Linked DNA regions of Homo sapiens. The protein of the gene in region 2 interacts with the protein of the main gene of each other region in a pairwise test. Each region holds a gene or a part of one and is shown on either strand. Other genes may lie near its edges. The genes, in order: ZMYND12, SEC14L4, PLEKHF2 and TRIM54.

Region 1 (7,025 bases), on a different chromosome or scaffold from region 2:
AAAGAGCTAGATGTATAAGAAAGCACTTATCGATGATAAAACTCTGTACAAAGTTAGATGGGATGTTGAGGATGATAACTGAATTGTTCTTTCAAAATTTAAGGGGTTTCTATTAGGATTTCAGTACTGGAAAATATTACCAGAGAAAAGAGTTCCTGGGCGTGAAATCTGAGTTAGCGTAGAGTCAGACTGCAGTCTCCATGCAGGTTGGTTCTCTCTTCAGCCTCTCTTCTGGCCTCTGCACCAAGCAGCCCTTCCTCTGGTTGCCCGCCTGTACAATGCCCGTAAATTAAATTTTACGCTGGTTATTCTTTAAATTCCACTAACCCATATCCATTCTCTGCCCTACTCTATGCCCTGGGAGCCTGACCTCTATGGACTACACAACCTCTATGGACTCCATTGCTCTCTGGCCTTGGTTGGGTTTGGAGAGTGGAAGGCATAGTAGGGGAGTGGAGAGTAGGAGGAGAAAAAGGCTGGGGTACTGATTCTCTCTGCTGCCTCTCTGCCCCACCCCTGATCTGTCAGGAACAGTGTTCCTCTGTGGCCACAGCTCCTGTCAGGCAGCCTTCTTCCATAGTGCTAGCTCTTGCTGGGCCCTGGTAACCTTGTTTCCTCCCCTTGCTGTTTCAGGTGTAGGGATGGTAATAGTTTCTTGCTGTTGGTAGTCCCTGGTGTTTCACTAGGCTTTGTTGGTTTTACTCGTAGGGCTTTTCCCTAGCCCTTGTTGGTTTCTTAACCCTTCTACATGTCAAGTAATAATTCCACTAAACTATCTTCAGGCAATCTTATTGAGGGTGCCATCTAGTTCCACCTGGGCTCCTGACTAATACAATTCTTTGTGTTTCCTCTCTATACTCTACATCCTCCAACAAATTAAGCAGAGGCACATTCTGTCCTGAGCTGGGCCACACAGTTAAGAATTAGTAGGCCAGGTGTGGTGGCTCACGCCTGTAATCCCAGCACTTTGGGAGGCTGAGGCAGGCAGATCATGAGGTCAGGAGTTCGAGACCAGCCTGACCAATATGGTGAAACCCCGTCTCTATGAAAAATACAAAAATTAGCTGGGCGCAGTGGCTCACGCCTGTAATCCCAGCACTCTGGGAGGCCGAGATGGGCGGATCACCAGAGGTCAGGAGTTCTAGATCAGCCTGACTAACATGGTGAAACCCCGTCTAAATATACAAAATTAGCTGGGTGTGGTGGCATGTGCCTGTAATTCCAGCTACTTGGGAGGCTGAGGCAGGAGAATTGCTTGAACCTGGGAGGCAGAGGTTGCAGTGAGCCAGGATTGCGCCACTGCACTCCAGCCTGGGCGACAGAGTGAGACTCAGTCTCCAAAAAAAAAAATATGAAAATTAGCCAGGTGTGGTGGTGTGTGCCTGTCATGCCAGCCGCTCGGAAGGCTGAGGCAAAAGAATCACTTGAACCCGGGAGGCGAGGTTGCAGTGAGCCAAGATCGCACCACTGCACTCCAGCCTGGGCGACAGAGGGAGACTCTGTCTTTAAAAAAAAAAAAAATTAGCACAAGCTCAGATTCCTTAGCCTAGCTTTTTAAACACACACACACACACACACACACACACACACACACACAGAGCTTTATTGATATATACCATAAAATTCACCCATTTTACGTGTACAATTAAATTATTTTTAGCAAATTTACAGAGTAGCGCAACCATTAGCACAATCAAGTTTCAGAACATTTCCATTACCCCAAAGAGATCCCTTGTATCCATGCGCAGTCATTTCCCATTCCTGTTCCAGCCCCAGCAACCACTTCCTGTTTCTACAAATTTGCCTTCTCAGGACAGTTCATACAGACAGCATCATGTGTGGTCCTTTGCATCTGACCTCTTTCACCTAGGGTGATTATTTTGAGATTCATCCATGTTGTTGCATGTATCAACAGTTCATTCCTCTTATTGCTGATTAGCATTCCATTGCCTGGATATACTACAATTTGTCTATCCATTTATCAGTTGATGGACATTTTGGTTGTTTCTATGTTTTGTGTATTTTAAATAATGCTGATATAAACATTTACGTACAAGTCTTTGTGGGTAGGTACTTAGAAGAGGAATTTCTGGGTCATGTAGTAACTCTATGTTTAACTTTTTAAGGAACTACCAAACTGTTTCCACAGAGGCTGCACCCTTTTACATTCCCATTGGCAATGTGTGAGGGTTTCATTTTCTCCATATCCTTCCCAACACTTTTTATTTTCTGTATTTGATTCTAGCCATCCTAGATGCAGTGATATTTCATTATAGCTTTGTTTTGCATTTACCTAATTACTATGTTAGTATCTATACATGTGCTTATTATTCATCTGAATATCTTTTTGGAGAAATGTCAATTCAGATCTTTTGCCCATTTTTAAATTGGAATGTTGTAACAGTTTTTTGTATGTATTCTAGATACAAGTCCTTTATCAGATATATGATTTGCAAAAGGAACTCAAGCACTCTCCTTCTTCCTTCTGCTATAGATTTATTTTGCCAGTTGTGCATTTGGAACAGAGGACATTAGGACTTCAGGAGGCTACTTCCACCTGGCTAATATATTCTATGACCTTAAAAAGTTGGACCTGGCAGACACATTGTACACCAAGGTGAGCTGGGGAATGTGGGAGCTGAGCCTTCACTCTTAGGCTTGGTGTCTTACAACTTGTATTAGACTATTCATGAAAAACATACCATTCATGAGAAAGAGAGGCACAGAGAGATGAAGTGGCTTGCCCAAGACTATATAGCCTGATACATGATATACTCCATTTTCTTTCTTCCAGTGTCTCCACTACCAAAATAGACTAACCCTTAACATCCGTAGGGTGATTAACGAATAATGAAGGACAGGTCAGTAAGAGCCAAACCCCTTCAGATAGACTGTTGTATGCTGTGTCATACCCATAGCAGCAAGCTAATGTGGGCTTATTGAAGTGTGCGATAGAGAAGGAGATTTCCAAGGGAAGTCTGTTGCTACAAGATCCTGTCAAGGGATCCAAGAACATGAGAAATTTCCATATTTACATGTAAAATATTTTAAACTGTTTCCAATATATTAAAATGTCAGCTGTATCCATATAGTAACACCTCACTTAGCAGGCAATCATTTGTGTAATAAATGTGTAATACAGGCTTTCTGCTGATTGTTGATTCATGTTTTAGACCTGCTTCTGAGAAAGAGGCATTTTGCTGTAGTTTAAAAGCTTTAGAATCAGATAGACCAGGGTTTAAATTCTGGCTATGCCACTTAACAGCTCTTACCAGAAGTCGTGTGTGATCTTCTCTGAGCCTCGGTTTATTTACATGTAAAATGGGAATAATAAGAATATTACATCAGGATGTTGTGAGGATGTGAAGGTTTCGTGTTGTGTGTGCTATACAAAAGATAACCACTGTTATTAGACCCCACTAGGGCTACCCCAAGATGAGCTGCCACAGGCCCTTTTCAGCCCATCACTTGTCACACTTACCTTGGCCAGGCCTGTTTGGGCTCCTAGGGTTCCCTCTGCCTCCAGGCACAGTAAGAGAGAGAACCTCCAGGTTGTCCAGAAGCCCGGCCAAATGCGCTACTCTCCTCACCTGCCTGGTCCGACGGCTGAGGTCTGGCCTGCTTGTTGTATTACCATCTCTTTTCCCAACAGGTCTCTGAGATCTGGCATGCATATTTGAACAATCACTATCAAGTCCTCTCACAGGCTCACATCCAACAAATGGATTTACTGGGCAAACTATTTGAGAATGACACTGGCTTGGGTAAGTGGCAGTTTTCCCTGAAGGGAGAGCAGTGACTTCATCTCACCCAATACACAGACCTTGTCCCTAAGAGGGAAAGCAGCTGTCCCTGTCATGAAGCACACCATTGCCACCTTCCCCATGTTGCTGATGGAGAAAACTGAGACACGGGGATCAAAGAGATTTTACCAGTGTTGGGAAGAATTCAGATCCCTATCATCACACATAGCCATTCGGGGGTTACTAAGGGACAGATTTAGAGGGAAAAAAAGACCACATCAAAGCCCCCTGTGATTTCTGCAGAGCATCCATTTCTATGTTATCCCTCCAGGGCAGCAGTCCCAATCTCTCCCTGGCACCAGGGACCCGTTTCATGGAAGACAATTTTTCCATGGACTGGGGGGCGTGGGAGGAATGGTTTCAGGAGAATTCAAGTGCATTACATTTATTGTGTACTATGTTTTTATTATTATTAATATATTGTAATATATAATGAAATAATTATACCATGCATCATAATGTAGAATCAGTGGGAGCCCTGAGCTTGTTTTCCTGCAACTAGATGGTCCCATCTGGGAGTGATGGGTGACAGTGACAGATCATCAGGCATTAGATTCTCATAAGGAGTGTACATCCTAGATCCTTTGCATGCACAGTTCACAATAGGGTTCACGCTCCTAAGAGAATCTGATGCTGCTGCTGAACTGACAGGAGGTGGAGCTCAGGTGGTAATGCAAGCAATGGGGAGTGGCTGTAAATACAGATGAAGCTTTACTCGCCCCTACCACCCCTGCTCACCACCTGCTGTGCAGCCCGATTCCTAACAGGCCACAAAACAGTTCTGGTCCATGGCCTGGGGGTTGGGGACTCTTGCTCCAGGACACGTAAGCCAAGGTAGACTCTACACAGAAGGTGCATTGCTGATTTCTTCTGGTGCCTTAACTTCATGCTTTACTGAACAGTGAGCTTCTCAGTGGCAGGGCCCAGTTGGATTAAACTGTATTCCCCGGGCCAGCAAAGGGCTAAGTGTTGAATAGTACCGTACAGCATCATGCCCTCAGAGACAATGAAAAGACACAGAGGATCTAGTTTCTGCTCAAAAGAGACATACAGTGCAGTTGGTGATATAGAACCTATAGGCAATAACAAAAGAACATTCCTGTGAGTACAAATTATGTTACAAGATGAGTCCCAGAATGAAGAGGTGAGGACAGCTGGGTGGTGTTGAAGAAGGAAGACTCTTTGGAGGAGAGGTTTTGAGCTAAAGTTTAAAAAATTAATAACTTTATTGAATTTTCTCTCATTATGTAAATAGTTCATGTTATAGCTGAAAACTTGGAAATCATAGATATCCAAAGATAGCCAACCTTAACATGATGGTGTATATCCTTTTCGTCTTTTTCTCTAAGCTTAGTACTTGTATAAGTGCTTTTAAATGCATGTAGTGACTTCTCAGTAAATGATGACTAAAGTAGGACCAAAAACTACTGGGGAAAATAGTAAACAGACTCTCAGAGGGAAGCATGAAGGTTGTTGCTTACGCATCTATGGCCTAGACGAGAAGAGTTAAGCTGCTGCAGCTGCAAGAAGTCCCTTCCCCCAGTTCTCTCCTCTCAGCTGTAGAGTGGAATCTGAGTTGGACCCAAGGAATCTGCCTGTGGCAGATTATCTGTGTTTGTAAGCCCAAGAGATCTAGAGTTCAGGACTCCGAAAGAGAGAAACCTTAGCAACTTTGGGACCTGTGGGAGTGAGCCTATTTTTAGGCTACTCTGATAATGGCATGCTAAGCAAAGCTGGAAAGCGGTCTGAAACTCCTGCTTCGGAGCTTCCTGCTTTGCACCTGGAGGGAGTCCTCTAGGTAAAAAACTTGCTGTAATTGGTGCTATTTCCACCAGTGCCCTTGGGAAGGCTTCAGCAGACCAGGCGCTTTAACAGCTGAGTGCTTTTGATGAGGGCAGACTCAGTTGCCAAGAGCCTGTTTTTTCTTTCTTCCCCTTCCAATGCAGATGAAGCCCAAGAAGCAGAAGCCATTCGCATCCTGACTTCAATCTTGAACATTCGAGAATCTACATCTGACAAAGCCCCCCAAAAAACCATCTTTGTTCTGAAGATCCTGGTCATGTTTTACTACCTGATGATGAATTCTTCAAAGGCAAGTTTCCCTAAAAAAGCAACACGTCTAAAATGAAGGTAGAAATTCAACTAGTTGAACTCAAAATTTGTGTTTTGCCCAATTCCAATAGCTTTTGCCCTCAGAGCAAGCCCTCACTCCAAAGAGGTTCAGATGCTCACGATGTTTCTCCTGTGTTGAGTCTAGCCTGCATAATGGAAATTGGATTGTCTTCTTCCCCCGAGGGTTCCCAGTCTTGCATAGATAAAGAGAGTCTGAGGCAGTGCTGGGAAGCCTGCAGGGCAGGAAGGCTCTGGGGAGCCTTGGATGGATGAAGTAGCCGCTCTAACTCCACTCAGTTACTGAGTTCCCTGTTGCTGCGGGGATTCAGGCAGAAATGCATTGCCATGAAATGATTCAAAAAGTAACTTTTTGAGTACTTTTACCTACCAGTTATTGGCCTAAACCCTTTACATAATTATCATACTTAATGCTTACACCAACATTAATGAGGTAGCTATTTTATTATCTCTACTTTACAAACAAGGAAACTGAGGCACCGAGAGGGTCAATTCTTTGCCCAATGTCTTACAGACAGCAAGTAGCATATCTCAGGTTTATTGACTTATTGGTTGATTCTCTCATTCATTCAAACATTTATTGAAAATCTACCATTTGTAAAGCACTAATCTAGGGACTGGGGATACAGTGGTGATCCATACGTTTCCTATCTCTATGGCACTGGTGTTTTTTGGAGGAGTGGAAATAAACATATGTATGTGTAATATAATTTCAGATAGTAGAAACTGTTATAAAGAAAACTAGCCAGGCACAGTGTCTCATGACTGTATTCCCAGTACTTTGGGAGGCTGAGGAGGGATGATTGCTTATGTCCCGGAGTTCAAGACCAGCCTGGGCAACATAATGAGACCCACTCTCTACTAAAAATAAAAATAAAAAGATCAGCCGGGCTAGAGGTGTGCACATGTAGTCCCAGCCACTCGGGAGGCTGAGATAAGAGGATTACTTGAGCCCAGGAGATTGAGGCTGCAGTGAGCCGTGCTTGTGCCTCTGCACTCTAGCCTGGGTGACAGAGCAAGATCCTGTCTCAAAAAAAAAAAAAAGAAAAAGAAAAAGAAAAGAAGAAGAAGAAGAAGAAAAAGCAGTTGGCA
Region 2 (7,025 bases):
GAGGGACCTAGCCTGGTGTCCCCAGGTTCCTGCAAAATCCTATAGCTCCTGCTGTGTTCCTGCAGCACATGGAGTTCCGGAAGCAACAAGACCTGGACAACATTGTCACATGGCAGCCCCCTGAGGTGAGCCTCGAGCAGCATCCCCCAGGCCATCTGAGGCCCCTCACCCCTGACATCTCCCACCTACCACGTCCAGCCACCTGATGGAGTAGGGACCCAGCCTGGTGAGCTGGATTGAGTCGGGACCTTACCCACACTTCCAGGTCATCCAGCTGTATGACTCGGGTGGTCTTTGTGGCTACGACTACGAAGGCTGCCCTGTGTACTTCAACATCATTGGGTCCCTCGACCCCAAGGGTCTCCTGCTGTCAGCCTCCAAGCAGGATATGATCCGGAAGCGCATCAAAGTCTGTGAGCTGCTGTTGCATGAGTGTGAGCTGCAAACTCAGAAGGTGAGCAGCGGGGGTGGGGCTGGGCCTCATCTGTCTACAGGGTGGCACCAGGACCAGAGAAGGGTGGCACCCTGCCCCTCCCCAGCCCTCAGCACCCAGGGCTCTGGTGGAATGTGGGCTTCTCCCACCCTTACCCACCCGTAAAAGTGAGGTGTTGTCCATCTGTCTGGAAAACGCTGTGGGCTGCCAGAGGGTGGGATGGCAGGAAGGTGGGGAGAGGTGCCCAAGTCTCTCTGGCCAGGATCTCCTGGCTGGAGCTGTCGTCTGACCTATATGACTCTGTCCCAAGCAGCTGGGCAGGAAGATCGAGATGGCGCTGATGGTGTTTGACATGGAGGGGCTGAGCCTGAAACACCTGTGGAAGCCAGCTGTGGAGGTCTACCAGCAGGTAAGGTGGGTGGCTGGCTTGGGGCTGGTGTGGGCAGTGGCTCCCAGCTGTGAGCCCTAGCTGTGAATTGATGTGAGAATCCAGTGAGATAGAGGGGTGGGGATGCCTTGCAGGGGCTCCACAGACCAGCCAATGATGCTGGCCTAGAGACCACCCTCCACGGAGAAAGGGGAGCAAGATTAACACAAAGAGGCCAGGCGTGGTGGCTCACGCCTGTCATCCCAGCACTTTGGGAAGCCAAGGTGGGAAGATTCCTTGAGCAGGAGTTCAGGATCAGCCTGAGCAACACAGTGAGATGTCATCTCTACCAACAATAATAATAATTTTTACATTAGCCCAGTGCAGTGGCACGTGCCTGTAGTCCTAGATACTTGGGTGGCTGAGGCGGGAGGATCTCTTGAACCCAGGAATTCAAGGTCGCAGTGACCTGTGATTGTGCCACTATACTCCACCTTGGGAGACAGAGTGAGACCCTGTCTCGAGAACAAATCAACAAACAAAAAAAGAATAACAGAGAGGAAGAGGCACATGCTTGTGGGGAAGGTAGGATGGGCCAGGGATGGGCCTCTTGTCTCAGCAGCATCAGAGGCCACAGAAACCCATGGGCGGGAGGTGATGGAACAGAGCCCCAACCAGACTCATCTTGACTCCACAGTTTTTTAGCATCCTGGAAGCAAATTATCCTGAGACCCTGAAGAATTTAATTGTTATTCGAGGTAAGCCCATGACCGGGATGACCTCCTGGGGAGGGAGAAGCAGGAATTGGGGGTACAGTAGGTAAGCCATGGAGTTAAAGGCTTCTTCACCCATCCTTTGTGAAGAACCAGGTTTTGTGTGGTTGGTTTCTGGTTAGTTAGTTATTGAGATGGAGTCTCCCTCTGTCACCCAGGCCGGAGTGCAGTGGCATGATATTGGCTCACTGCAACCTCCGCCTCCTGGGTTCAAGCAATTCTCCTGCCTCAGCCTTCCTAGTAGCTGGGATTACAGGTGCACGCCACCATGCCTGGCTAATTTTTGTATTTTTAGTAGAGATGGGGTTTCCCTATGTTGGCCAGGCTGGTTTTGAACTCCTGATCTCAAGTCATCCAGCCACTTCGGCCTCCCACAGTGCTGGGATTATAGATGTGAGCCACCGCACCCGGCCTCTGGCTTTATTTTTTAGTTTCAGTCCTTCACAGACTGATATTTTTGTAATATACAAAATCATGCACTGGTATGTTTCAGCAATGTCAAGTTATAAGTTTCTAAATGTTTACTGTTACTTACTTATGTCAGTGTGGGCTGGGAACAGATAGTCCATGGACCACACTAGTGGATGGACACACTTTGAGCGGGAATGGTCCCTGGCTGCCCTGGTGATGTCATGTGTTCCAGAGTCAGAGGATCTGGTTCAAATCTAACTAGCTCTATGATTTTATCCAAGTCTACTTAACCTCACTGAGCCTCAGTTTTCCCATTATGTAAGATGGGGATACAATAGCCCCCTCCTCAAAGATAACTATGAGGTTAAATGAAACAGTGTGTGGAGAAGATGGAGCACAGAGCTTGGCCCACAGACAGTGCTCAGTTGAGTGTGAGCAATTCAGGGCAGGACAGGAAGTCTCATGTAGATGTCACACCCAAGAAGATTCCAGACAACCTGGAGTGTGGAAAAGAAGTGATACTGTTGGGGAATCAATATTGCTGACCCTAGAGCCAGCTTGTGCCCAATCCCTTACAACTGGGTTGGGGAGACAGCCATTTTTCTTTTTCTTTTTTCTTTTCTTTTTTTTTTTTTTTTTTGAGATGGAATCTCACTCTCTCACCCAGGCTGGAGTGCAGTGGCGTGATCTTGGCTCACTGCAACCTCTGCCTCCCAGGTTCAAGCAATTCTTGTGCCGCTGCCACCCGAGTAGCCGGGATTACAAGCATGCACCACTACGCTCAGCTAATTTTTGTATTTTTAGTAGAGACGGAGTTTCACCATGTTGGCCAGGCTGGTCTTGAACTGCTGGCTTCAAGTGATCTGCCTACCTCAGCCTCCCAAAGTGCTGGGATTTCAGGCATGAGCCACTGCGCCTGGCCTGAGACAACCATTTATTGAAAGCCAGGAACTGTGCCAGGTGTTATACATACATTATTTCACCTTCATTTTCCAGTTAACTGCACTAAGACTTGGAGAGGGTGGGTAACTTGCTGAAGGTCACACAGCAGAGAGTGGCAGAATCCATATCTGTCCACCTCCTGTCCAGCACCTGCTCTTGGCTGTGGCTCTGTATCCCCACGTCCTTTCTGGTCCAGCTTCTCAAGAGATTTACATGTGTTTCAGCCCCAAAACTGTTCCCCGTGGCCTTCAACTTGGTCAAGTCGTTCATGAGTGAGGAGACACGCAGGAAGATTGTGATTCTGGGAGGTGAGCGACGTGGCCCCCTGGTTGTGTCCATCTGCCTGGGAAGCAGAGGTCAATGCTAAAGACCCTGCTTCTCCCTGGCTCGTCCTCTACTCGGGCACTACCCCTGGCCTGACCCTGGTGAGCCTCCACACGCACGGGCAATGCCTTGGGTCCTAGACCGTGGGCTGGGAGCCACATAAAGGTCTTGGGTACTCTTAGGAGTAGGTGCCCGGGGGAGCACGCCCAGGACATATCAGGTTCCCTCACCAAGCTCAGCCCCCTCTGCCCTCTGTTGAGTCTCCTGAGTCCCTTTGGAGTCCCTCTCTTGCTCCCATGCAGACAACTGGAAGCAGGAGCTGACAAAATTCATCAGCCCCGACCAGCTGCCTGTGGAGTTTGGGGGGACCATGACTGACCCCGATGGCAACCCCAAGTGCCTGACCAAGGTACAGGGTGCCCAGAGGATGGGGAAGGAGGGGAGAAGCTGTGATCTAGTGCCCACACACCCCCTTCACCCACAGATCAACTATGGGGGTGAGGTGCCCAAGAGCTACTACCTGTGCGAGCAGGTGAGGCTGCAGTATGAGCACACGAGGTCCGTGGGCCGCGGCTCCTCCCTGCAGGTGGAGAACGAGATCCTGTTCCCGGGCTGTGTGCTCAGGTAGGGATGGCAGCCACTCTACACCTGGGCACATCTGGGAGGGGCCTGGAGCCCAGGCAGGGGGTCGCCAATGGGGCTCTATCCACTGCAGGTGGCAGTTTGCTTCAGATGGTGGGGACATCGGCTTTGGGGTTTTCCTGAAGACCAAGATGGGGGAGCAGCAGAGTGCTAGGGAGATGACGGAGGTGCTGCCCAGCCAGCGCTACAATGCCCACATGGTGCCTGAGGATGGGAGCCTCACCTGCCTCCAGGCTGGCGTCTGTAAGAGCTGCGGGGTTTACTGGAATTGTTTTCCCTGCCAGTCTCCCCTCTGCTTGCCCTCTCTTTCCAGCTCTCGGGAGGGTGGGGGGATCTCTGTAAGCTCCAGGGGAGCCAGCTTTGGGGCCATGGATCAGATGAGTGGCCCCTACCTGTAGGTATGAGGGCAGAGATTCATTGTGGGGGAAGAGCTGGTATTCAGAACCTAGGGCCTTGGGCTCAGCTCCTAAGAAGCCCCTATACCGGGATCACTGGACTAAGAGACAGGTAAGTAAGAGGCCATGGACTTAGAGTCAGGGGTCTTGGCAAGGGGACCACCCAGTTGCATGAACCACCCCACTCCAGGAGTCCCAAAGAGGTGACTTCCTCCAGGTGCTTATCATTCACCCCCAGGCCTTCCAGGCCAGATGCAGCTCAGTCAGCTTTACCAGAAGTAGCATTGCTCAGGGACACCACTGCCCTTCCACATCTATTGGGAACAGAGCTAGGAGAAGGGGAACCCAAGGTTGATTTCCTATGGAGGAGAAGGGTGTGGCTTATGCTTAAGTCAACACATTACCTTATTTCATTTTGTGGAAAGGGAGCATTAGGAGAGTAGAGACAGACAAGTCTGCACGACTCATCACACCTGAGTTCATGTTGGACCTTGGCATTGAAGGACATGCCTTCTGTGAGACGGAAAGCGGCTTATGTAGCCCAGCCCATTCCTCCTGGGGTAGCAGGGCTCCTCCCTGGGTTGGGACATCTGGATAAAGGAATCCCAGTACCTCCCCTCCCTTGCTCTGTGACCGCTGAAAGATCATATCACCTCTCCAAGCCTCAGTTTTCTCCTCTGTAAAATGAGGATGACATTGCCTTCCACATGGGGCTGCTTTGAGGATTCAGGGGCTATAATGTGTGATGGAATCCATGGTTCATGGAGAGGCCCAAGAGCTACCTGTGCAACCGCAACTAGGCGAGGACGCAGTACGAGCATACTGTGTCCGTGGGCCACAGCTCCTCCCTGCAGGTGGAGCTCGAGATCCCGTTCCCAGGCCGCCTGCTCCCTGGCTGTGTGCTGTTCTATATGCTGATGACCATCATGATTCCTTCATGTAGCGCAAGCCACCATGGAGATGGCAGCGAGCAATGGGCTTAGGGCTGGGCACAGGCTGGCCCTCAGGCCCCACCCACTGTCCTGGACAGCTCATTTCCAAGGGTTCCAGGGATGCAGGACGTTCCAGGGATGCAGCTCATTCCCAAGGGTTCCAGGGATGCACCCATGCAGGGCTGGCTCTTCCTGCAGATGTGCGGGGTTTGTGCTCCCTGATCACCTCTCCATCACTGCAGATGTCCTGCGCTTCGACAACACCTACAGCCGGATGCATGCCAAGAAGCTCAGCTACACTGTGGAGGTGCTGCTTCCCGACAAGGCCTCTGAGGAGACGCTGCAGAGTCTCAAGGCGATGAGACCCTCCCCAACACAGTGAAGACCCCAGCCACCTCTACCTGTGCACTCCAACCCCTTCACACCCACCCCTCTGACCCCTGCCTTCCCAGGCAGGGTGGTGCTGGAGGTGGCTGCAGAGAGCCACTTGTCCCACGTCACCATTTCATCTCATTGTAGGCTCACCTGGCACAGTGGCCAAGCAGGAAGGGGCCACCAGTGCATAGCCCATGCTGAAGATTCAGACAGGAACCTCTTTCCCTGTTCCCAGAGAATGCGGCTGAGAATGAGAACGCTGAAGATGATCCAGTCCACTGAGGATGGGTCCTGCTTGCAGAAGCTGCCCTTTCACCCATCTTGACAAGATCCAGCCACCCAGGACTCACCCATGCCTGGTGTTCCAGCTTCAGGGGGTGTGCGTGGTTCCTAGGTCCTGTGGACATCACAGCTTCAGGCCTGAAGAGCAGAGAAGCCCTGTTCTCTGCATGTAGGAGGTCAGCAGGGGTGGGCAGGCCCAGCTGGAGGCAGCTGGGTGAGGGTCCTGGTTCCAGCAGAGCACTGGGGCCCATCCAAGTTTGTTCTGCCACCACTGGATGGAAAATTGGAAATGGACTGGGCGTGGTGGCTCACGCCTATAATCCCAGCAGTTTGGGAGGCTGAGTTGGGCAGATCACCTGAGATCAGGAGTTCGGGACCAGCCTGGGCAACATGGTGAAACCCTGTCTCTACTAAAAATACAAAAATTAGCCGGGCATGGTGGCGTGCACCTGTAATCCCAGCTACTCAGGAGGCTGAGGCAGGAGAATCGCTTGTACCCAGGAGGCGGAGGTTGTAGTGAGCTGAGATCGTGCCACTGCACTCCAGCCTGGGCAACAGAGCCAGACTCCGTCTCTAAACAAACAAACAAACAAACAAACAAATAAAGAAAGAACATTGGACATGGAGAGGTGGGGCCTGGCATGGGTAACCATCAGAGGAAAAAGCCATGCTCAGCCTTCCAGTTGAGTGGGTAACGACTGAGTCTCCAGGGAATTCCCAGTGACCTCCCCTCCACACCTGCTGTGATCCTGCCAACATTTAGCTTTGGTTCTCTTGGCAGCTGCACCATTCATGGGTGCATATACGTAGAGTCTGAACAGGTGCTCTGCTGCTAGAAACAGCAAACCATCTAGATTAAACTCCTAAAGCCAGTGCCACGAGGCATTCCTGTTCCAACTGGGTGTTTGAGCAGATTGGCAAAAAAAAAAAAAAAAAAAAAAATGGCTGCGCTGGCTCCAAGGAGATGGCCTGGGCTGTCGGGCAAGAGTCACAGGACATCCCCATGTCCAGGGGCTGCCTCTGCATCGGAGATGTGACAGGCATCCCCACTACCCTGTTGCACTGCATGGCCACGCTGTCTGCTGCTTTCCCAGATGCAGTGATATTTGGAGTGCCCAGAGGCACTTGGGCTTCCATGGCAGGCTGTGG
Region 3 (7,318 bases), on a different chromosome or scaffold from region 2:
TAAGCAGGCAGCTCATGTACAAAGCTGGTTCATCAAAGATAAACAACAACAAAAAAATTTTTCATATACTTTCTATTAAGCAGGGCATTCTAAAAATTCTAAGACAATTCCGGCAAAACAATAATTGATAGAGCTATAATGAGATTTGTTCCAAGAGCTTAAATGTATAAATATGACCTTTAAATTTTTCAAGCATTAACAATATTTCCATCAAGTTCAAATACATTCAATCACACTTAAAATTATGATTATAATCCTTTTGATGATCCATGGCTTCTCTCTCATACATCAGTAATTATACTTTAATCCATTATCTACTTAGAAATTTCATAAATATTCAAGTTCTGTACCCCCAGGCGAAAATTCACTCAGGTACTAAGTTAAATTCTCAACAAAACAACAACAAAACATGTGTGTGTGTGTGTGTGTGTGTGTGTGTGTGTGTGTGTGTATATATAATAAAAACCAATCTGTGGATTTAATGGAGTTGATGGCATGTATTGGGAAAAAGACTACAAAGAAGATTTAACTATGATGCTCATGGAATTTACAATTTCAAAAGAAATTCATGAAGCATATTTACAAGGAACAAACATACGTGTACTCATCCATTCAAACCTTTCCTGAGCATCTGCTATGTTCTTGGCATGCAGGGAATGAAGAGGCAAATCAGACCCGATGTGTTGCCTGCTGTCAAGGAGATGTCATGACAGAATCTATGCGATATTTACAGTAATACCATGGGAGAAATTAATTGATTTCTGGAGAGGGCAAGGGAGTGGAATGAGAGAACAGAGCAGAAAAGGCTTCAAAGAGTATAGGCTTAAGTATTTTTAAGGAAAAAATTTCATCACAAGGATCACCTGTAAATCAGCTCGCTGGGAAATAAGTATTTATACTGAAGAACTAAATTCAAGTCAGAGCAGTGATAAGAGCAAACGAGATGGACAGATTGCTCCAGAAGACTGAGTTATGTATCCTACAAAGTTATGCTACAGGAAAAATGAAAAGGCTTCAGAGTCATAAGATCTCAGTTAAATACCAGTTTGGCTGCTACATTTGTGAAATTAGTTAATTTCATTTCTAAATAAAAAATGTTATAATGCCATTTACTTGACAATGAAGCAAAACTAAAAGAATTTTTAAGAACAACAGAAATTGGCAATACAGCCTGAGCAACATGGCAAAACCTTCTCTCCACAAAATTCAAACAAAAATTAGCCAGGTGTGGTGATGCGCTCCTGTAGTCCTAACTACTCAGGAGGCCGAGGTGGATCACCTGGGCCCCGGGAGTTTGAGGCTGCAGTGAGCGGAGATGACACCACTGCACTCCAGCCTGGGCGACAGACAGAGACCCTGTCTAGGAAAAGGAAAAGGAAGGAAGGAAAAAGAGAAAAAAGGAAAAAGAAATTGACAATCAAATATGAGCAGAAGCTGTATTTTTAGATCTAAAAAGTAAAATTCTCCAAGAATTTGGGGTTTTAGGGCTTACTGTATTTGTGTTTAAGAGCCTTTTCAGTTCATTTAACAGAATTTTAAAGCAAGATGTCTTTATTTAAAAATCATTTAGATTCATTTACTGAGGCTGAATATTTTCTTCTGAAGCTTAGTCACTATACTAGTTTTATTTAGAGGCCGATTACGTGTGCTTTCCAAATAAATAGCTTAATACCATTCATTCCCCGTGTGGTCGGGACCCAAAGAGATTATAATGAAGCCTTCGTTAATACTGAATTAACGTGAAGACCCCACGAGCTGCCAGAGTATTTAAAAAAAGTAAATGCTCAAAACGCGGTAGGCATTCACCCTTAAGAAACTAAAGGGAGGGGAAAAAAACTTCAAACTGTCAAGATCACTTCTTATTCTTAAGAGAACACATGCCTTTAAGACTCTCAAAGTTTCTGTCTAAATCTTTCTTTAATGAGTCTCTTCAGCAACGTACTACACAACACGACAAAGAAGGCATTTATCAACAACGCGTTTTGTGAGTCTATGAATTACCGAGGAGGGCTTAGGTGTCTGTAACCTTCATACCCACTTCCACCGCACACTCAAGTTATTGCTGGAATGTACGGAGAGCACACAAGGCTATTCAAGCAACACCGGCAGCGCGCTCTCGGCCTTCAATCACATTTTTAAAAAGAAAAATAAATTCGTCAAAGGATCATAAAACTTGAAAAGGCTCCAAATAAATAAACCATCGCTTCTATCAGAGCAAGTTCTGCGGGGCCATTTTCGTCTCCCAAGTGACATACAAATATGTAGTTCAGGTCATAAGGTCCCCGACACGCAGACCCTGCAAACTTTTCGGCCAGAAATTTGTCGCGACCCTGAGACGCCCCCGGCCGTGTCCAGGACCCCCGTCCTCAGGCCCCACAACTTCTCGCCCGGCCTCGGGGCTCCTTCCCGCGTCCGCCGGCCCCCGCCCCGCAGACCCGTGGACCGGACCCTACCCGGCGGCCCCCGTCCCCCCGCGGCGGCGGCGGCGTCCTACGGGCGGGCGCGGCTCGCTCCCGGGCTGGCGGGACGGCGGCGGCAACTGGCCCGCGGGCCGGCCCCGGCGCGAGGGGAGCGGCCGGGAGCGCCCCGTTTCTCACAGACCCCAACATGGCGTCGGCCGCCACCGCCCGCGACGACGACACCTCCCGGCGCTGCGACGGCTCCGGGACCGCGGGAGGAAGCGCCCGGAAAGTTTCGCGTCTCCCCTCCCGGCCCGTCAGGAGCCGGCGGACCACCCACCCGGGCTTCACCTACCCCGACGGCCGCGGGCGGCGGCGGCGGCGACAGCGAAGGCGAAGGTCCGATCCTCCTGGTCGCGGACGCAGGGCGCGGACTCTGCCCGTTCCCCGCCGGGGCCTTCCAGGGTGTGTGCTGTCCGCAGCCCCGCGCAGCCGGCGCGATCCAGACGCGGTGGGCGGGCTGGCCGCCAGCGCAGCCGCTCGCAGGTGACTCCCCCGCCCCTCCAGTCGAACCCGACAACGGCTGCCTGGGCTGGCCTCTCCCCTGCGCGCGCACGGGCGCGCCCCCGTCCACACTCCGGGCGCGAGCGCGCGGGCACGAGCACACCCACACCCCTCGCTCCCCGCCCTTTCTTGCCAGTTCCCTCGCCCCGCCCCTCGCGCCCCTCGCGACGCGCTCTAGGGGCGGGGCCTTTGGCGGAGGCCACACCCACTCAGGCCGGCCGCGGGCGGAGCTTGTCCATGTGTGAGGTCGGGACGCGCTCCCGCGACGCGTTGAGGTGCACGTGAGGCGCCTTACCTGACTTTCCTGACTCCGACCAGCCCTTAGAAAGTATTGCTCAACTGTCTACGAAGTTCTTAGGGAGACTGGAATAATAGAAGGAAGACACCTCCCCACCCACAACAGGCCTCCCCGGGGAACTGAAGAACGAGAAAGGCAGGCTTTGGATCTAAATGCCCAAAGGCATCGGTACTGGCATTTGCTGCTCCCATTTAGCACAGCAATCCTTTCCGTCACACTTTCCCTTTGCTTTACCTAAAATCCCTCCTCTTGAAACCAAGGGAACTGCGGCGACACACACATACCCTACGTGCTCCACCCAGCCCTTTCTTTTAAATGCATACTTTAGAATTCTGGTCTTCCCAAAACTTTGACGACACAAAACCCCATCAGCCTACTTCACATACCTAGAAACTGTAATTATTGCATAGTATATAAGGTTAAATGTGCCCTAATTGATCTGATAGCTAAGCGCTCTGATGGGTTCGTAGAGAGGTAACGAAGTTGCTTAGGGTAGACTAGGGATGGGGGCGAAGTAGGGAGAACAGCATACTTATTTTAAACAAAGTGTGTGTGGTGTGTAGGAGGAAATTGGGTTTTGGTAAATTTTATATTTCTTATTCATCTATTACTTCAGTAAGTTGTTTTAACCTGTGTTTGATTGCTGTTGAATTAGAGTCACTACCAGCCAAGCTGCACGTGGATGAGCACCTAGGGATGAGAGCAGACTTGGGTTCCGCCCTGCTCTTCCACCTGGGATCTTCCTCCTCCAGGCTTGTTGCCTCCTATCCTCCCCTATTTCAATAGAGTTTGTCTCTGAAACAAACAAGTCTTTTTTTAAATTAATAATTAGAACAAAATTGGCAAAGATGAACTTTTTTTAAATGGGGAAAATTGTATGATCACACACACACAATCTTTCGTGTGTTAGAGTTGTCTCTAGATGAGTACAGATGTCACCAGGACGCTTGTCCGTACCATCACTCTACCTCATTCACCTCTACGTGCACAGCAATATCTATCAGTGGGGAAAAGGCAGGACTAAATAATGCCTAAAATCCTTTTAAATTTTGAAAGTAGGAATTGCTATGTCTGACTGGTTGTCTAAGGTCAAGCCTAGAGCATTAGTTATCAAATATTTTTGGTCACTCACATTAGTAAAAATGTTTGCCCTCCTCACTTCCCATGTACTTATTTAGCTTAAGTAAAGTGCATAGATAGAAGCCAGAATGACTGTAATCAAACATTGGCTTTGTCTCTAACAACCTTGGCACATCCAAAGATAACTTTGGTTTTTTCACTTGTAAAATGGAGATAATAAAAGTATATCACAGAGTCATTATGCAGATGAAATGAATTAATATATGTAAAGCATATACCTGGCACACAGTGCTTTACAAGTGTGAAATAAAATTATTACATACATAATATACACATTTATATAGTGCTACGTAAGTGTGAAATAAAAGTTGTTACATATGTAATATACCCAGCTACTCAGGAGGCTGAGGCTGGAGGATCACTTGAGGCCAGGAGTTTGAATCCAGCCTGGGCAGCATAGCAAGACCCAGTCACACATACACACAGAATTATATGTATGATATATATAGTGTGTATTTATATACACACATACACCTATTATAATATACCTAGTATGTTAGGTACATTAAAAAACAACATACACACACAAAAAAATCAGAAATAATGATTTTAAATATATATATGTATGTTTTCTTTCTGTACTCTTCATAGTCTATGCCCTCCCTGGGCTGCGTGCACCCCAGTTTGGAGACCGTTGATTTAGATCTGTGCTAACAAATACAGTAGCCACTAACCACATGTCTTAATTAAATGTAAATTTATTTAAATTAAAAATTTAGTTTCTCAGTCACACTGACCACATTTCAAGTGCTTAATAGCCACATGACTATTGGACAGTGCACATATAAAACATTTCCATCATTGCAGAAGTTCTATTGGATAGCACTGACCAATCTGGAACAAAGCAGGGAACTCAAAAGTCACTGAAAGGAAGTAAGATTCACTCCTACCCGAACCTGTAATTGTGGTACCCTGTTCAAGTCAAGTGATAAGACAGCTCTTTGAGCCTCACATCTCAACCGTAAAATGAAGATAAAAATAGGAATTACTGGCCAGACACGTGGCTCACGCCCAGCCCCATCCTCCCACCCGCCCAATTTTTTTTTTTTTTTTTTGAGACAAGAGTCTCACTCTGTGGCCCAGACTGGAATATAGTGGCGTGATCTTGGCTCACTGCAACCTCCACCTCCCAGGTTCAAGTGATTCTTCTGCCTCAGCCTCCCAAGTAGCTGGGATTACAGGCATGTGCCATCATGCCTGGATATGTTTTGTATTTTCTTTTTAGTAGAGACGAGTTTTCACCATGTTAGCCAGGCTGGTCTCAAACTCCTGACCTCAAGTGATCCACCTGCTTCAGCCTCCCAAGGTGTTGGGATTACAGGTGTAAACCACCACACCCGGCCTATAATCCCAGCACTTTGGGAGGTCGAGACAGGAGGATTGCTTGAAGCCAGGAGTTCAAGACCAGCCTGGGGAACATAGTGAGACTGTGTCTCTACAAAACAATTTTTAAATTAGCTGGGCACTTGGAGTCCCATCTCCTCAGGAGGCTGATGTGGAAGGATTCCTTGAGCCCAGGAGGTCAAGGCTGCAGTGCAGTGCAGTGAACAATGATCCAGCCACTGCACTCCAGCCTGAATGATGGAAGGAGACCCTTTCTCTTAAAAAAAAAAAAAAAAAGAAAGAAAAAAAAAGGAACTTCCTCATAAACTGCTGAATGGAGGAAATAAGATAATGTGTAAAGTGTATGACACATTGTTAAAACATAGAGGAACTTGAAAAGATTAGTAAAACTTGAGTTTATATTTCCCCAATTTGTTTTTTTAATTTTTTACATTTGAAAATAAGAGATTGGGTCTTGCTTTGCTGCCCATGCTGGATTCAAACTCCTGGGCTCAAGGGATCCTCCCTCTCAGCCTCTTCAGTAACTGGGATTACAGGCATGCACCACCAAGACTGACTAACCCGATTCTTTAATCCTGAAAGGCAAAAAAGATCACGTTATTGTTCTTGAATCTAACGTGTATCTTGTAAAAGTGAATAGTTTGGTTAAGTTTTAATTGAAAATAGAACATTCAAGAAATGATAGGATGGCAAATACCTGGATTTTAATTACTCCTTGATTTCTTTGTCCCCTCCACTTTTAAAGGCTGGTCTTCTCCCAGTTTTGCCCATCTCAGTAAAACGGCACTGCCATCCACAAACCTGATGAGCCATCATCCTGTCATCCTTTTTCCCATGTCCTCCATCCAATCTCTTTATCTCCAAAATATTGTAGGATCTACCTTCAAAACACTTTATCTCATCTGTTCTCCTCTCCTCCTGGCCCCTCCACACAGGAGCCACACAGGATTGTGTCACTCCCTGAAGAAACATTTCCATGGCTCCCCACAGAGGCTGCCATATAGAATTGTACAGTTGTGGTAGAACAACCCTATGGGAGAGTGCATTCACATTGGAGGCACTGGAAATTTAATATTTATTATGAATATTTTCTGGCAGATTTTAGTGAAATGACTCATTCTAACAAAATTATCTTACAACAATTTTCCAACAAGATGGAAATCTAATTTGCCCAGACATGCCACATAGAATAAGAGCGTTTCTCTTTCACTTAGTACGAAATACCAGCTCATCACCTGGTTCTACAAGACCCAGCACAATCCAGCCCCTGCCATCCCCTCCAACTTAAAATGATGCTACACTCCACCAACTGCCATTCACATTGACCTTCCATCATTTCCTAAAATAAATCAAGCTCAAAAGAGCTGCTGTGGCGCTCACTGCCCTGGACACCTCTCTACCTGGATAGTCACAACTCCACAGTCTCTGCCCTTCACATAGCTGCGGCTCCTTGTCATGTTTCAGTCCTCTGAGAGGCCTTTCCTGGACACTATGTCCTCAGTTACTCTCAGTCACAGCCCTTTGCTTGTTTCCCTCACAGAACTTACAGGTCTCCCTGGAGTCTGAAACCTGC
Region 4 (7,025 bases), on a different chromosome or scaffold from region 2:
ATTAGCTGGGCATGGTGGCACACCTGCAGTCCCAGCCACTTGGGAGGCTGAGGTGAGAGGATCCCTCGATCCCAGGAAGTTGAGACGACAGAGAGAGAGATCTTGTCTCAAAAAATTTTTTTTAATTTTTGTAAAATGCACATAACATGAAATGTACCACCTTAACCTTTTAAATGTACAGTTCAATGGCATTACATACATTTACATTGTTGTGAAACTGTCACCACTATCCATCCCCAGAACTTTATCACCACCCCAAACTGAAACCCCACACCCCTTAAACAATACCTCCCTACTCCCCCTCCTTCCAGCAACTGGCAACCACCATCCATCCTATGCCAGGTACCTCATTTAAGAGGAATCATACAATATTTGTCCTTTTGTGTCTGGCTTATTTTGCTTAGCATAATGTCTTCAAGGTTTATCCATGTTACAGACTGCAGACCTGGTTACTTTTAGCTGATAATTTCTATTGCAATCTATGTGACTTTTATCAGCATCATCCATTCTCCTGTCAAATGTGGATTTTTTTTCTGTGTTGATATTTACTTGATTTCTTTCCTTAATTCTGCCAGCTCTCTTTTCTTCTCCAGTTTTGATCACTTATATCTCTTTGTTTTTGTTATTTCTTTTAAAATGGTATATCGAAATGGTATTGATTCTTGGAGTATCTGTCCCTTGTTTGTCAAGCTTTCTTTTTTCTTTTCTTTTTGTATTATCTGGTTTGCATCTTTTGTTGGATTCTGTCTGCTTATCACTCCCCTTTTATCAGGGTACTTTTATCTGGAGCTGAAGGTGAATTCCTGACTCAACCCACTGTGTTTATCTTGGCTTTCTTTCACTGTCCTCTTAAATATAAGCTGCCTGGTTGGATGTTGTCATTGGTTTTGCAATCTCTCTTTAGTTCTGTGCCTTCTTTGGTGAATAGAGGGGTATGACCTGAATTAATAGGTAGTTGAGTGTCTCAATTTGGTTGTGTTGTCTTGGAGTATTTTTCACGCAGAATCCGGTGATTTATCTACCATAGAGGCCCACACAGGTCCATGGGAGGAGGTCTCCCCTGAGATTTGAGCTATTTCCTCTCCATTTCACAGACAAACAGGTCATTCTGGTTGAAAGCAGGGCCCTTATAGAGCTCCATGGCACACAGGGTTTTAATTTGATGAGTCATCTTTTGTTGATCTTTGCTTAAATAGCTTTAGTCCACAGTTGCATAGTTGATTTTCAGGCTGTAGTTTCTTTCCTCTGTGAAGGTTTGAGGTTTGTTCCTTCATTACCCTTTTACTTTTTTTACTTAAAAAACAAAAACAAAAAACGGCCAGGTGAGGTGGCTCACACCTGTAATCCCAGCACTTTGGGAGGCCGAGGTGGGTGGATCACCTGAGGTCAGGAGTTCAAGACCAGCCTGGCCAACATGGGGAAACCCCATCTCTACTAAAAATGCAAAAAATTAGCCGGGCATGGTGGCACGTGCCTGTACTCCCAGCTACTCAGGAGGCTGAGGCAGGAGAATCGCTTGAACCCGGGAGGTGGAGGTGGCAGTGAGCCAAGATCCTGCCACTGCACTCCAGCCCGACGACAGAGTGAGACTCTGTCTCAAAAACAACAACAACAATAATAACAACAACAACAACAGTAAAAGAAACTGCCTCTGCCTGAGACTCAGAGAAATGAATATTAGCTCTAAGGGTTTTTTTGTTTTGTTTTTTGTTTGTTTTGTTTTTGAGACAGGTCTCCCTCTGTCACCCATGCTGTAGTGCAGTGGCATGATCACAGCTCACTGCAGCCTTGACTTCCTGGGCTCAAGTGATCCTCCCACCTCAGCCTCCCAAATACCTGGGACTAAAGGCATGAGCCATCTTGCTTTTTCTTCTTTTTGTAGAGACGTGGTTTCACTGTACTGCCCAGGCTGGTCTTGAACTCCTGCACTCAAGCCATCCTGCTGCCTTGACCTCCCAAAGTGTTGGGATTACAGTCATGAGCCACCGTGCACAGCCTGGCCTAAGTTTTATTGTGTCTGACAATGGAACACAATGATTATTAGGACAGGCTCTGGAGTCAGAGTGCCTAAGTTCCAGTACTGGCTTTGCCACCTATTAGCTCATGACCGTGTACAATTTATTTAATTTCACTGAGACACAATTTCCTCATCCTTGAAATGGGGCTAAGACTATTACCTACTTCAGGGCCAGGCATGGTGGCTCACGCCTGTAATCCCAGCACTTTGGGAGGCTGAGGTGGGCGGATCATGAGGTCAGGAGATTGAGACCATCTGGCCAACATGGTGAAACCCTGTCTCTACTAAAATACAAAAAAATTAGCCGGACATAGTGGCAGGCGCCTGTAGTCCCAGCTGCTTGGGAGGCTGAGGCAGGGGAATCGCTTGAACCCAGGAGATGGAGGTTGCAGTGAGCTGAGATTGCACCACTGCACTCCGGCCTGGGCGACAGAGCAAGACTCCATCTCAAAAAAAAAAAAAAAAAAAAAGAGTATTACCTACTTCAGGGTTGATATGAGGATTAAGTGAATTAATACAAATGAAAGACTTAGAGCAAATCCTGGCTCAGTAGATGTTAGCCATTATTATTCTATTTCTTGTAGACTAAGTTAGGAGTGATTGTTCACCTCCTCGACCATCTTTTTTTGTTTGTTTGTTTTTTGAGACAGAGTCCTGCTCTGTCGCCCAGGTTGGAGTGCAATGGCGCAATCTCGGCTCATTGCAACCTCGGCCTCCTGGGTTCGACTCCAGGGTTTGAGTGATTCTTGTGCCTCAGCCTCCCGAGTAGCTGGGATCCTCAACCATCTTTACAAGAAGTTCTTGAGGAATAAATACAACAATGTCTGGAAAACCCATGACACGATGCTTGACACATGATAAGCCCTCAAAACATATTTTTTTTGAGACGGAGTTTCACTCTTGTCTCCCAGGCTGGAGTGCAATGGTATGATCTTGGCTCACTGCAGCCTCCACCTCCCGGGTTCAAGCAATTCTCTTGCCTCAGCCTCCCAAAGTATCTGGGATAACAGGCGCCTGCCACCGCACCCAGCTAATTTTTGTATTTTTAGTAGAGACGGGATTTCACCGTGTTGGCCAGGCTGGTCTCGAACTCTTGACCTCATGATCCACCCACCTCGGCCTCCCAAAGTGCTGGGATTACGGGCATGAGCCAGCGCGCCTGGTCTCAAAACATTTGTTGAATGTTAAGTAATGAGTATCCCTGCCTTTGTGGCTCAGGAAGAGGAAGGGTGCAGTGAGGGATGGAGGTTGGGGAGAGCGGCTGCCCAAGAGTTTATCTTTGCTGTGGGATATAGGTCCCCCTTCCTCCCATTCAAATATCTCTATATGCTTGCCATCAGCAAATCAAAGATAAGAAAGACAGGAGACTGCAGCCTTAGAGTTCTCCCAACACCTCTTTCCTCACTTGGGTTCTAAATATTGAAAAGTAATTGTATTAAGCAAACAAAAGGCAAGTGATTATACACTTTAACGCATTCCCTAAACTAAACTCAACAATATTCATACATTTCTAGCTACTGAGAAGGCAGATGTACAAACATGCCTTGAATTATCTCAAACTAATCTGCCCCAGGTTTATGATGGGCTTAAAGGTTAACATGATTCTCAAGAAATCCCAAGAAAGATGTGATATTTATGGCACACACCAGTTACTCTCCCCAAGATAAGCTGCTCACTTCACAGTGGGTCCACGTTTCCTGCCTTGCCTACAGCCCTTGCTACCAAAGGATCAAACAAGACCCTTGACTTGGCTGCACTCTGTGCATGATGGGGTGTTGCTGCACACACGCAAGGGGCCTTCCAAACTGTCTTCTGGTTTGTGTATGGTGTAAGGGTTTGGAGAAGTTCATGCATCCCAGTTGTAGGAAGTGCATCTCACTATGCTAGCTCATAGGTGACCACTGTCTCCATTACTCTCTAGGAATGCATAATCTTCCAGCCAGTTGGGATTAGGTTCTGTTCTAAGTGGCAGAAACCCCAGAATAACAGTGGCTTAAAGAGGGTAAAAATTTGCTTTATTCTCAAGTGAAAGTATGGGTGGACAGTGCAGGACTGCCTCATCAGAGACCTCCTTTCATCTCGTTACCATTCTCAACATGTGGCTGCCACTTCATGGCTCAAGACGGCTGCTTCAACTTGAGCCATCCCGTCTTCTTTCCAGCCAGCAGGCAGGAGAAAAGGGGAGGAGCAGGGCATGCCCCTCCCATGAAAGACGGTTTGTGCAATTTCCTACAAATTACACAAAACATTTGCATCTACATCCCAGAGCACAGCCAATTGGCCACACCCAGCTGGAAGGGAGGCTTAGATTCATGGGTTTTTTGGTTTGTTTTTTTGAGATGGAGTTTCCCTCTGTTGCCCAGGCTGGAGTGCAGTGGTACTATCTCAGCTCACTGCAGCCTCTGTCTCCTGGTTTCAAGCAATTCTCCTGCCTCAGCCTCCCAAGTGGCTGGGACTACAGGTGTGCACCACCGTGCCCAGCTAATTTTTTTATTTTTAGTAGAGATGAGTTCTTGCTATGTTGCCCAGGCTGGTCTCAAACTCCTGAGCTCAAGTGATCTGCCCACCTCGGCCTCCCAAAGTGCTGGGATTACAGGCATGAGCCACCACACCCAGCCCTTTATACCATGTGTCTTGTTAAAACTCAGGGCACTTATTATTAAAGAAGAAAAGGTGGTGAACGTCAGGGTACAATAAGCAGTGTCTGCCAGTCTTTCATCTCTGCATCTCCCCACACATAGACTCTTTTCTCTGTAGACCAGCCTTCTCTGTTCAGTTTCTGACCCCTTACACTTTCCAGGGTGGCCGTGATGTCAGCTCTTAGCCCAATTCCACAGGTCTATTCAATTCCTAAGCAGAACATGGCGTAGCCAGCTAAGCCCCTGAGTCTCAAGTCCAAATTCTTAGGAGAGAATATTTGATTGGTTCTGCTTGGGTCAGGTGATCACCTCCTTAGCTCTGAATCAATCATCTGTGGCAGGGATCTCCCTTCTAGGATAGGATGGAGCAACTACTCTAGGCAAGAGATGTAAGCCGGAGGAAGTGATGGGTGTCTGTTAAGTCCTCCTTCTGAGCCTACCCCTATCACAACACCCATCCTGCTGGATGCAGTTGTCAGGTGCTTGTCCTTAGGACAGGATGCATTTTCTTTGTATCTTTAACTCAGAGTCCAGCAACTACCTGGCACACTATAAATGAATAATTTTATCCTCAGCTTTACAGAGGTTGAATACCTGCCTAAATTTATATACTTAAGAGGTTGGGCATGGTGGCTTACGCCTATAATCCCAGCAATTTGGGAGGCCGAGGTGGGAGGGTCACTTGAGGTCAGGAGTTTAAGACCAGCCTGGGCAACATAGTGATACTTCATCTCTACTAAAAATAAAAAAAATTATCTGGGCATGGTGGCACACACCTCTAGTCCCAGCTACTCAGAAGACTGAGATGGGAGGATTGCTTGAGCCCAGGAGGTCGAGGCTGCGGTGAGCTGTGATCCCACTACTGCACTCCAGCCTGGGCATCAGAGAAAGAACCTGTCTCAAAAAAAAAAAAAAAAAAAAAGGCCGGGGGGAGGGCATCAGAGATAGCACAAGAACCCAGGACTCCTGACTTCCAGTTCCTGGAGCAATTTTCTAGAATTACCTGGCTAGTTACAGTTTGTGAACCCCATTGTTGAGCACTTGTATCTGCTTGTACCCCTGCCCAGGACTGCAGAGAATCTCCTCCAGTTGTGGCCCAAGAGGGCCCCAGACTGGAAGACATTGGTCGCACCACTCAGAGTTCATTTCCTGCCTCAGCCTTATTGCCAAGACCAATGTCTCCCCATGGCTCCAAGCTGGACCCCTTTGGAGAGATCCCATCCTGACTATGCCTTGACCAAAGCTGAGTTCTGGATGCAGGGGCACTCTAGGAGGTGGGCTGAATAATGAGGCAAAGGTGGGAAGCAGGGTCTCCATGGCCGTCCACCGTGCGCTGCTCTCAGAGGTGGATCCAGCCACAGAGAAGAGCTGACATCTTCCCCTCCATCAAGTTCCTACTCCCTAGCCCCCAAGCCCTTTCCCCCTGCCTCCTCCGAGTCCCTTCATGCCTCCCCGTGCCTGTTCTCTCAAGCCATCTGTCCCTGCAGGCCTCGAATCCTCTATGGCAGTCCCGGGGCTCCACCACTGTGTCTTCAGGAGGCCGTTTCCGCTGCCCATCGTGCAGGCATGAGGTTGTCCTGGACAGACACGGTGTCTACGGCCTGCAGCGAAACCTGCTAGTGGAGAACATTATCGACATTTACAAGCAGGAGTCATCCAGGTGAGCCACCAGAGTCTCTTGCCTCTCTCATGACAGGGCTTGGGACACAGCCAAGGAACCCATCAGAGCCAAAAGGGAGAGATTGAAACGGTCAACCTGCCTGTTCTGTCTAGAGACCATAGGACTGGATCCGGAGAGGGACTTGCCTCAGGCCTCCCAGAGAGGGCAGTCTCTGATTCCCTAGCCAGTACTTCACTCCTACCCTCTCCTCCTGGGAGAGGCTGGCAGTCCACCAGCAAGATCCTCGCTAACCCTCCAAGACTTCCTGTCCTGTGGGACTTCCCTGCCCCCTTGTAATACAGACTGTTCTCGGATCCAGGCCTCCTCTATCTCTTAGCTCCTTCTGTTCCCCAAATTCAGAGCTCTGTGGAAGTACTCACCAGTTCAGCCACAGCACTAGCTGCAGGGGCGGAGAAGGTGGTGGCAGTTGGTGGAGGCTGAAGAGAAGGTATTCCTAGGACCCTTCATGCTTAAGGTCCACCTCCCCCTGCCCACTCCTCTCTAGGCCGCTGCACTCCAAGGCTGAGCAGCACCTCATGTGCGAGGAGCATGAAGAAGAGAAGATCAATATTTACTGCCTGAGCTGTGAGGTGCCCACCTGCTCTCTCTGCAAGGTCTTCGGTGCCCACAAGGACTGTGAGGTGGCCCCACTGCCCACCATTTACAAACGCCAGAAGGTATCAAACAGGGGAGGGAGTAGATATGTGAG

The links.
Region 1: the proteins of SEC14L4 (region 2) and ZMYND12 interact in binary tests that used the Homo sapiens proteins (3 or more experiments, as listed by UniProt).
Region 3: the proteins of SEC14L4 (region 2) and PLEKHF2 interact in binary tests that used the Homo sapiens proteins (3 or more experiments, as listed by UniProt).
Region 4: the proteins of SEC14L4 (region 2) and TRIM54 interact in binary tests that used the Homo sapiens proteins (3 or more experiments, as listed by UniProt).

Annotation. Positions count from the first base shown.
Region 1 is NC_000001.11:42,432,013-42,439,037, reverse strand, and holds part of ZMYND12 (zinc finger MYND domain-containing protein 12), read left to right. Parts: intron 1-2,494; coding exon 2,495-2,617; intron 2,618-3,652; coding exon 3,653-3,764; intron 3,765-5,749; coding exon 5,750-5,895; intron 5,896-7,025. UniProt on the Homo sapiens protein: Required for sperm flagellum function and male fertility.
Region 2 is NC_000022.11:30,488,683-30,495,707, reverse strand, and holds the end of SEC14L4 (SEC14-like protein 4), read left to right. Parts: intron 1-65; coding exon 66-125; intron 126-265; coding exon 266-454; intron 455-746; coding exon 747-842; intron 843-1,497; coding exon 1,498-1,558; intron 1,559-3,150; coding exon 3,151-3,234; intron 3,235-3,552; coding exon 3,553-3,659; intron 3,660-3,734; coding exon 3,735-3,874; intron 3,875-3,965; coding exon 3,966-4,135; intron 4,136-5,461; coding exon 5,462-5,601; 3' UTR 5,602-5,829; coding exon of another isoform or gene 5,830-5,831; 3' UTR 5,832-6,806; downstream 6,807-7,025. UniProt on the Homo sapiens protein: Probable hydrophobic ligand-binding protein; may play a role in the transport of hydrophobic ligands like tocopherol, squalene and phospholipids.
Region 3 is NC_000008.11:95,129,467-95,136,784, reverse strand, and holds the start of PLEKHF2 (pleckstrin homology domain-containing family F member 2), read right to left. Parts: upstream 3,001-7,318; 5' UTR 2,755-3,000; intron 1-2,754. UniProt on the Homo sapiens protein: May play a role in early endosome fusion upstream of RAB5, hence regulating receptor trafficking and fluid-phase transport. Enhances cellular sensitivity to TNF-induced apoptosis.
Region 4 is NC_000002.12:27,292,424-27,299,448, forward strand, and holds part of TRIM54 (tripartite motif-containing protein 54), read left to right. Parts: intron 1-6,143; coding exon 6,144-6,316; intron 6,317-6,821; coding exon 6,822-6,993; intron 6,994-7,025. UniProt on the Homo sapiens protein: May bind and stabilize microtubules during myotubes formation.